Homo sapiens: one gene and its partners. The protein of the gene in region 3 interacts with the protein of the main gene of each other region in a pairwise test. Each region holds a gene or a part of one and is shown on either strand. Other genes may lie near its edges. The genes, in order: ELOVL4, SLC10A1 and TMEM222.

Region 1 (3,658 bases), on a different chromosome or scaffold from region 3:
TTCAGAATATTAATTTAATCAAGGTATAGATGTAATAATAATTAATTTTTGTCATAAAGTGATCTAAGTCAGTTCAGATTTACTAATTTTCTTTTAAAATTACAGAAGTTGCCTTTAACTGTATTGTTTTAAACTGGGCCCCCAATAATATATGTATGAATTCCTAAGCTGCCAATTATCATAATATGACAATGGAAAGCAGCAAGGTGAACTATACTATAATGACTTGTACCCTGGATCCTCCTCAGAGGAATAATCTGCATCAAGCTCAACAATGTGAATCATCCTTAATCTACAGGCATCTGAAAAGACAGGAGGCAGATCTTGGCCAAGCTATGAATTTAGATCCTCTTTAACATTAACAAGGCTATATAAAATTTCCTTTGAATAAGAACCAACAAGACCTATACAGGCTGAGTATTCCTTATCCAAAATGCTCAGGACCAGATGTGTTTCTGATTTCAGATTTTTTTAAACTTTGGAATATTTGCATAGACATAATGATGTGTCTTGGGGATAGGACTCAGGTCTAAATCCAAAACTTCATATACACCTTATACATGTATCCTGAAGGTAATTTTATAAAATTTTAAAATAATTTTATGCATTAAACAAAGTTTGTGTACTCTGAACATCAGAAAGCAAAGATGTCACCCGTGTGGACATTATCTGTGGTTGTTTGGCATCAACATTATGCTGTACATGGAAAAGGGCTAAGAGGGTCTTTTTTCCCTTAGGTATACTGAATAAAGTGTGTTCTGCACTTGTGTTTTGACTGTGACCCATCACATGAGGTCAGGTGTGTAATTTTCCACCTGTGGTATCATGCTGGTGCTCAAAAAGTTTTGAATTTTGGAGCATTTGGATTTCAGATGTTTAGATTAGGGATGTTCAATCTGTATTAGGGCAGGAGTGAGCTATGGGCTAAGATGGAAATCTTCAGATTTGAGGGGCTGTGTCTTGGTATTCTTTGGATCAGAACTACTAGACCCGTTCCCCATCAAAATATTGTTTTCTACCTTTAGTCTTGGTTTATGCTCATCTCTGGGGCAAATCTTTAGGTATTAAAGTAGTCACAGATAAAAAGCAAAAGTTATACTTGCCTCAAATTTTTTAAAAAATGAAATGATGGCTGGGTGTGGTGGCTCATGCTTGTAATCCCAACACTTTGGAAGGCCGAGGCAGGCGGATCACAAGGTCAAGAGATCGAGACCATCCTGGCCAACATGGTGAAACCCTGTCTCTACTAAAAATACAAAAAATTAGCTAGGCGTGGTGGTGTGTGCCTGTAGTCCCAGCTACTCAGGAGGCTGAGGCAGGAGAATCGCTGGAACCCGGGAGGTGGAGGTTGCAGTGAGCCGAGATCGCGCCACTGCACTCCAGCCTGGTGACAGAGCGAGACTCCATCTCAAAAAAAAAAAAAAAAAAAAAAAAAAAAAAGAAATGAACATGGAAATGATTAACCATGAAAGCAAGTTAAATGGTAGATCAAGTCAAAGTCCTAGGTTCTCATTGCTTTCCACTGAACACATATATGCAATTAAACGCAAGCAGTATATTCCTGAAAATGCTCACCTTGTCCTCCTGCAACCCACTTAATTCCAATCCACCACAAGGTAAACATCGTACAGTGATGATACACATGAAGGAAAGAAACTTGGTTGTTTTTCTTTCTCAGAATAAAAAACACTGTGTCCAAATACTCAACTCCTTTAGATACAAAGTACCACCACAGAGCAGCAGCTATCTGTAAAAAGGGAAAGCGTGTTATAAACACCAAAATGACACTATTGTATGGGTTTATACTCATTGTAAGTAAGTCCAAAATAAACATTTGTATATTGCACAAAATGTACAAGGCATGGAATCATTAATGGCTAAGTAGGTTTGAAAAACCTAAGCATCTCTCCATGGGGAAAAATAGAAAAGAAAGAGTCCAAAGCTCTATCTATACAGTGCCAATAAGTTAGAGAACATTTTCTGTCTATTCCATAGGTAGATGTTACATAGTGTCAAACTGCTGAATACAGAGCTGGAAGCACATTCAGACTGCTGTGCTTTTCAACTTGGTAGAGGAACTAAGATGTTTACTTTGTAAAATGATTTTAGTTGTTCATGCTTAGCCTACATTATACTACCTCAGAAAAACTTGCAAGTAAGTTCATGTAGCAACTGGTCTCTACAAGTGTCTGCCTGTCTGCCCACCCTCTCCCCTCACCTCCCTCTCTCCCTCACCTCTCCGACTGCACCAATATGTGCAACAACATAAATATCCAATCACAGCAGTTTGTATTAGGTATTAAATCTTTAAAATAAAAAATTGGAATGAACAAACAAATATTTCCCAGGTCATAAATATAATCCTGCTTACATGAATAAGTCTTTTCTTTTCCTGGGCTCTAATTAAGGCACCAGATGGTACAGAAAGATTACATTACATACTGAGATTAAGGATCCAGTGAGAGGTGACCTCTGTATGTTTTAAAATGTTTTACAAGAATCCTACTGTAACAGTAAACCAAACTTAATTTTTTATGTCAAGTATTTTCTATGATAAGCATCCTATGTGCAAATAACAATTAAGGCAGTACATAACTAAAATCTATTTATAAGCTTTCATGTGTTAGGGCCCTGTCAGATTCATTCACAGACAGGCTTAGGTGTTTTAGAGTTGAAGGATCCCTTTGCATTTTATACCTGCACCTGGTATATGTCATGAGATTTTTGTTTGTTTTGGCTTTTGCATTTGAAAAACAAAATTATAATTTTAAAGTATGGGGAAAGAAGAAACAGAAAGCATATAAGAAACAAAGTATTTACAAACTGAGAATTATTTACTGAATTTACTTGAAAAATATCATTAAAAATGATATGAATTGGTTGAAAATAAGCTTGAAATAGTTAACTACTCCCAGCAACACTATAGTTAATATTCACTATTATATTAGTTCTTTAAAATAAAGTAACTGTCACCATTTTGGCATCGTAACCTTTAACTAGAAGGAAAGATACAATCTCTTATTTCTCCTCTATCTGGACCTCTACATTTGCCACAATTCACATAAAATAACAACAAATAAGTCTGCTTAGTTTGCAAACTGCACTAGATATCTTTAAATAAACTACACCAAAAAGTGATACTTCTTGGCTACGTAACAATGAATACAGAAATGAGTCTCTGCGTAAAATATTCACTCTATTGCATCCCATATTAGAGAGGAGAAGAGAGCACGAGGAAGATTTCAAATGAAATCTGTTGCAAATCTCAGGTTCTTTATCCTCCTAGATTACAGTTCTCATAATAGCTCATTTTTTAAAGACTTGAAAATTTACATCTGTAAGTGAGAGTGGTATTTTTAAACCTTTATCCTAAAAATAGTAATATGTTGCCCCACCCAAGGGTTTTTCTATGCATACTCCCAGAAGTCAGTCAGTCAAACACTTATCCCTGTTCCCTTCCCTACGGCAAGCAAGAAGTCAGCCCTCCAACTGAAGAGATTCTTTGGCAATAGTTATCAGAAGAAAATTTTTCATAGCCAATACATCTGAGTAGTCTCTCATTTTCTCTCAGTCACCTTCTAGGTTTTATTTCCTCCTTAGTCATTTGTTTACATGGCTGCTGTCTGCCTTCTCACCCTCACTAAAATGCCAGCCCCAC
Region 2 (3,658 bases), on a different chromosome or scaffold from region 3:
ACTTCACATCTTCACCCTCAGGTTAGAACTGGGTGAGGAGGTTGGATGAGAAGGCCATTTGAGTTGTCTAGTGAGAGGTAAGGATAGAGAGGAATGAATGGATTCCAGCAACAGAAGGTGGAATCGACAGTCATTGATTAGATGGGTGTGAGTGGTGAGGGAGAAGGGAACATTGAGAATGACTTCCAGTTTCTGGTTGGGGCAACTGGGCACACACACAGTGCCACCGACTGAGATAACCACATGGGGAGGAGATGACTTTAACATATATTGAGTTTTAAATGTCTGAGGTATATTCAGATAGAAAGACCTGGTAGATAATAAATGGATTCTGGAGTGAGGATAGAGTTGACATCTGATGATGCTGTTCTGGAAGTCTCGGTTTGCAGATGGTAATTGCAGACCTGAGAGGGACCAGATCCTGTGCTGGGAGAGGTCTGGTGAGAAAGGCAGAAAGCTTGGTCTGAATGCAGAGAAGTGCCTTTGACCAGAGGAACTCATAAGGGAGTCTGAAGGTCATGAGAGGTAGGAGGAAAGCAGCAGAGCTTAGAGTCACTAAAGCTGACAGAGAAGGCTTTTGAGGAGGCAGTGGTCAATTATGTCCAATGCTGCTAGAAGGTCAAGGAAGGATTGAGAAATGTCCATTGGATTTGGCAAAGAAAGTGGAGCAGGTGGTCATCAAGATGCTGGGTGGATGGGAGACCAAGGAGAGAAGAGAGGGATTCAAATAATGGAAACGAATTGCTGAGGGCCTGGTCACTCATGAGAGAGCTCTGGCGGTGGCATGGGGGAAATGGAAGGTGTTTGAGAGGAAGCGATTGACAGAGAGAGAGAGGAGTGAGGGGGACTACTCCTAAAACCTGGCTAGGAAGGAGAGCAAAGGGAGATATTAGGTGGAATGGGAGGTGGATTCCACAAAAAATCCCAGTGAGAGACACTTTTTGTTTTGTTTTTTGAAGATAGAAGATATGTGAGTTCGTATCAAAGCTGATTGTGAAGAACCAATACAGAGATATTTTAGAAATGAGAGAGAGGGGAGGCTGCTGGGCCAGGGGCATAATCAATAAAAGGAGGTCTCTTGAGTACAAGGGTAGAGAGAATGATTGCAATCCAGGGCTGAGGTGGGGTGACTGGCCACAGAAAGGAGGAGGGATGATTCCTCCATGTCCTCCAGCAGGCGGGAAGGGGAGCTGTGGCCATGGCACTGGGACAGGACAAGGGCAAAAACTACTCTTGAGACAATGGTAGTGTGAAAATAAAACCCCCCTGAAAACTGGACTCTTGACTTCTTTGTTCCAGGCCCAAAGCTGCTGCCAAACTTTGGGGTTCTCAGCAGCACGCCTTGCAGACCAGGCCAGAGGCATTGATCCAGGGGCAGAGATGGTACAGGAGGTCAGGAGGTCAAGTCCTTCCTGAGGACCAGGATGACCTCCTGGCCCTGGGGGATGAATAGTGAGCCAAGGGGGAGGCTGGCAGGGACCAAACTCCAAGGTTGAAAATATTGGTGGAGAGACCATAGCTGCACTCTAGGAGTTCTGCACACAAAGCAGTGGCATGATGCCCTGTCTGTGACCACAGTGCTTCTCAAAACCTTTGTGGCCTTAATTCACTCCACTTCCCACCCCATCCCTCTCTTGAAATGCTGGGAATGGGTACACTACCTGTCTCCTCTAGCTTCTTGCCACATCAGCCAAATTTGCCCTTAGTGCCTGCTGAACTCTATTCAGGCTTCTCCCCAGGTTTACCTAAATGCCTCAAGCCCTTCCTTTTTAATAAGGCTCTTTGACCACTCCAGCCCTCACTGTTCCCATCTCCTTGCCTTCTGCAAATACTTGCGTGTACACTGGAATTGGATCTTGTTTCTCTCGTGTGTTACTTCATTTTCTTTCTTTTCTTTTTTTTTTTTTTTTCGTTTTAGAGATGGAGTCTTGCTCTGTGGCCCAGGCGGGAGTGCAGTGGCGCGATCTCGGCTCACTGCAACCCCTGCCCTCCCTGGTTCAAGCGATTCTGCTGCCTCAGCCTCCTGAGTAGCTGGGATTGCAGGCACTCGCTACCATGCCCGGCTAATTTTTTTTTTTTTTTTGTATTTTTAATGGAGACGGGGTTTCGTCATGTTGGTCAGGCTGGTCTCAAACTTCTGACCTCAAGTGATCCACCCGCCTCAACTTCCCAAAGTGTTGGGATTATAAGCGTGAGCCACCACGCCAGCCTCATGTGTTACTTCACTTTCTGCAAATATCAAACTCTGGTGACAGTGAATCCTTAGAGTGCATAGCATAAAACTTAGCATCTAGTAGGAGCATATGTATGTTTATTATTAATATAATGATTATATCTTATAGTTGTATATGGTGTTTTTACTCTTTTGCCCTAATTTGTCAAGCCTCCCAGGTTCTTACCTTGATGACATAGCGCATGTATTGTGGCCGTTTGGATTTGAGGACGATCCCTATGGTGCAAGGAATGAGAACCAGGACCAGTGATATCACGATGCCTTTATAGGGCACCTTGTCCTTCAGGTCCCCATCATAGATCCCCCTGGAGTAGATGTACAGGAGGAGAGGCATCATGCCAAGGGCACAGAAGGTGGAGCAGGTGGTCATCACAATGCTGGTGGGAGACATGGGAAGAGGGGAGAGAGAGAGAGCCCATAAATACAGACTATTTTGTTGAGTGCCTGCTAAGTGCCACTGTGCTAAGTGCTTGACATATGTGGCTTCAGTTCCTTTTCCCCATAACATTAGGCAGTAAGCATACTATCTTCTTTTCGCTGACAAGGAAGCTGGGGACTAGAAGAGTTGTGTCCTGCTCAAAGTCGCACAAGGTAGTAAGTGGCCAAGGCAGCATTTGAACTTAGGGTGGTTCAACTGCTTCAATCCCTGTGTGCTTCATTGTGGAAGGAGCCATTCTGATCTCCTTCTCTGTAATGGAACCCTTTTCGCATTGAGCACCTCCCCCATGCCAAGCCCATTTTGTAGAAAGCCAACTGTGTGATTCCATTACTCTGGTCATTAGCCCATTGGACCATGGAATGGCACCTGACCCACAGTTACTAAATGTCTGGTTTAGAGCCTAGGGAATGGCTTCTTGTAGTGACTTTGTCCAACGGAGACAATAACAATTAGCTATATCAGCACATTTTACCTCGTGGGGAGTCTGAGTGTGAGACACAGTGACAGGACACTTGGTCTTTGGGGATGGGTGGCATGGGAGTGATGCTCAGGCAGAAGTCAAAAACCCTACTAGAAAAATCAATAAACAGATACCATGATTAAAAGGACTGTAAAAGAAATAGTGAAGCAGTAAGAAACAGAATAATTGAAGGGCCATAATGGTGGGGTAGTAGAGAAGGCAGTAATAGATACCCATGTTGAGTAAGTGACAAGATAACCTGGTCAGATTTGCTTTGCATCTTGGATAGTATTCCAGTCCCCAACTCTGGTGTTCTCATGTTCTTTACTTTCTGGTTCCTCTTGATATTATTTAAAATAAATTATGACACTCAGAGCCTGAATAATATGTCCTTCCAGCTCTAATATGTATCCTACTTGTCCAATTTCCTTTTCCATTTGGAATCTTATATATGTTAGTCCCAGGACCCTGTCTAGGGAGAGGCCCTCCAGAAAGGTCAACTGAGAAGGAAGCTGATAGGGCATCT
Region 3 (2,527 bases):
GGGAAAGGCTTCAGGGAGGAAGCGGCTTTTAAGCTGGGCCTTGGTTAGGCAGGGCCGCCATGAGAGGGATGGTGGAGAGCAAAGGATCGGAGGCAAGCGAAGGCTGGATGGATACAGTGACCAGAGGCTGGCAGTGCTCTTGGCTCATCCCCAACTCTGTACCCCGGCGGGTGGTGGGGACAGCAGTGGAGGCTCTACTCAGCCCTAACCCCAAGCCTACAAGTCCTTCCCAACAGGGACGATGGAAGGGGTTTCAATGCCCACCTGCCTCAAGAGGAAAGCTTTGGAATGGGGAATGGAGAATGGCAGGGAATCCCCAGACTTCAGGGGCGGGATATACCTGAGGGATGCTGATGGCCCCAGGCACTGGACGCAGACTCAACCATGGTGCTGGCAACTAGACCCTTGTCAAGGGTAATAGGGTCCCAAGAATACCAAGACGCTATGAGCTAAGGGGCAAGGGGGCCCCAGAGAGGGAGAAAACAATGACAGGGCACCAACTGGAGTCAAAACTCTTTATTGTCCTGCCCAGGGAGCCCTTCCCAAAGGAATCCACAGAGCAGGGGGGCGAGGCGGGCGGCACAGGGCCTTGGTGACAACGTGAAGGGGGAGCTGGAGTTAGGTGGGGGACAGCCCCTTCAGCTCCCTGATGGCACTGGCTGTGCTGGCAGGCCACCCAGGGGAGCCATCACCAGCATGAGGTCCACACCTGGGGCTGGGGCTGAGTGCTGTCTACACTGCTCTGTCTACACGGTTACTCTGGCACTTGTCAGGTCCACTCACCTCTCTGGCCTCAAACTGCAGGGGGAGATGGGTCCAATGCTGGGAGGCACTGGGAGGCCGTGGAACAGTGAAGAGCGGACTGCACGGGCTGGAGGATGCCAGATGGGCACACATGTCCCCCAGGGCAGCTGCCGGCAGGAGTCTGACAAAGGGACCCAGCCAGCCCCTCTGGACCATTCTAGAGGCCAGTGGTGAAGGTCCTGAAGCAACTTGGCTTATAGAGACACGTTAAGTGTACCCGGTGCACCCCATGCTGGGACCAGCTCTGGTCCCAGGGCCACCTTGACAGGTGAGCCCAAATGTCCTCCTCTCCCCATACTGGGCACTGGGCTGAGGCAGGACCCCAGCAGGTGGTGGCGGGAGCAGCTCTACAGCGGGAAGCCAAAGCCTTTCAACAGAAGAACAAAGGGGCTTCCAGGGCCGGAGTCACAGGCCTGGGGAGGAGGGGACAGGGTGCTTCTGAGAGGCAGGGAGACAACAAACCCCCACTTCATGCTGGTCCTCAGTCCTTCCATCCTGCCAGCCCCGACCCCCGGTCCACAACAGCAGGCCCAACCCTGCCTTTTGGGGTGAGGAGAAAAAAATCTGGAACCAAAAGGGATGGCGGCTGTTTCCTCGGGACCCTGGTGGGTGTGGGGCCACCGAGCAGCCATCACCGGAGGTTAAAGACCAGGCTGACGGTGAGGATGATGCCCAGGAGAAGGATGAAGGGCAGCCAGGTCTTCACGAAGGCCCCAACGCTGACAGAGAGAAAGGAGCGAGCATAGGTGGGCAGGGCCTGGTGAGCAGGCATGCGGCCCGCAGCCCTGAGCACCCACAGACCCCAATAGGGCTGCCATCCCTAAGGAAAACCCAACCACCCCCTCACCCCAAACTTGGCCAATCAAGGAAGCAGGCTGGGCATGGTTGCCCACTATGGGGGATCACCAGCTATGGTCCCGGGCAGGGGCTGCTCCGCGCTCCTGGTGATTTACTGACACCTCGCTGGTTGGGAACAGGAAACATGCTCCCCATTTCTAGGCCTCACTGGCTCCATCTATAGCCACCTACCTCTAGGGTCTCCAGCAAGAGGACCAGGAATTGCAGTTTGGGTATGGAAGCCACGTGTGCCCTCTGCCTATGGACTTCATAATGGGGACTACTGGGAGCTCTGGGGCTGGCAAGGGTCAGCAGTGTTGTGGCTGGAGCCAAGCAGCTGGGAGCCAGGGGTCTGGGTTCAACCTCTGTGTGACCAGTTATTCTCAGGGGACTTCTAAAAGCCATGCAGTACTTAAAAATATCCCTAAAAGTCTTCTTTTCAGAACCTCTTAATGATGAACGTGGCTAAGAGGAAAGCTTGGAGAGGCGGCCAGATCAGCACTAACCTATGCTGGCTCACGAGTCTGGGCTCTGCTGTGTCCATGCTGTGGCGACCATGGGCGACTCACTCAATCTCTCTGCCTAGGAAGGGACCTGTGGGGCAGTCATTATGAGAGGATCTATCTGCTCACTTTACCGGAGCACAGGGATCCGTAGAAGCCTCCCTGAGGAGCCGGAATCATTGCCTGCATTTCACCAGAGACAGCTGTGGCTAAGAGAGACCAAGGCAGTTGCCCATGGTCTCACAGCAGGCAAGAGCCAGAGCTGCATTTGGGGCCCAGGTGGAGCTGGACTTCAGCACAGCCACCTCCCTCTCCATCAGGCCCTCAGCTCGTCACTCTAGAACCACCACGGCTCCAACTGGCATCTGTTCCAACTGTCCTGG

Evidence for each region.
Region 1: the proteins of TMEM222 (region 3) and ELOVL4 interact in binary tests that used the Homo sapiens proteins (3 or more experiments, as listed by UniProt).
Region 2: the proteins of TMEM222 (region 3) and SLC10A1 interact in binary tests that used the Homo sapiens proteins (3 or more experiments, as listed by UniProt).

The regions. Positions count from the first base shown.
Region 1 is NC_000006.12:79,920,050-79,923,707, forward strand, and holds part of ELOVL4 (very long chain fatty acid elongase 4), read right to left. Parts: intron 1,748-3,658; coding exon 1,576-1,747; intron 1-1,575. UniProt on the Homo sapiens protein: Catalyzes the first and rate-limiting reaction of the four reactions that constitute the long-chain fatty acids elongation cycle.
Region 2 is NC_000014.9:69,783,698-69,787,355, forward strand, and holds part of SLC10A1 (hepatic sodium/bile acid cotransporter), read right to left. Parts: intron 2,611-3,658; coding exon 2,400-2,610; intron 1-2,399. UniProt on the Homo sapiens protein: As a major transporter of conjugated bile salts from plasma into the hepatocyte, it plays a key role in the enterohepatic circulation of bile salts necessary for the solubilization and absorption of dietary fat and fat-soluble vitamins.
Region 3 is NC_000001.11:27,334,375-27,336,901, reverse strand, and holds the end of TMEM222 (transmembrane protein 222), read right to left. Parts: intron 2,236-2,527; exon of another isoform or gene 2,148-2,235; intron 1,524-2,147; coding exon 1,436-1,523; 3' UTR 502-1,435; downstream 1-501.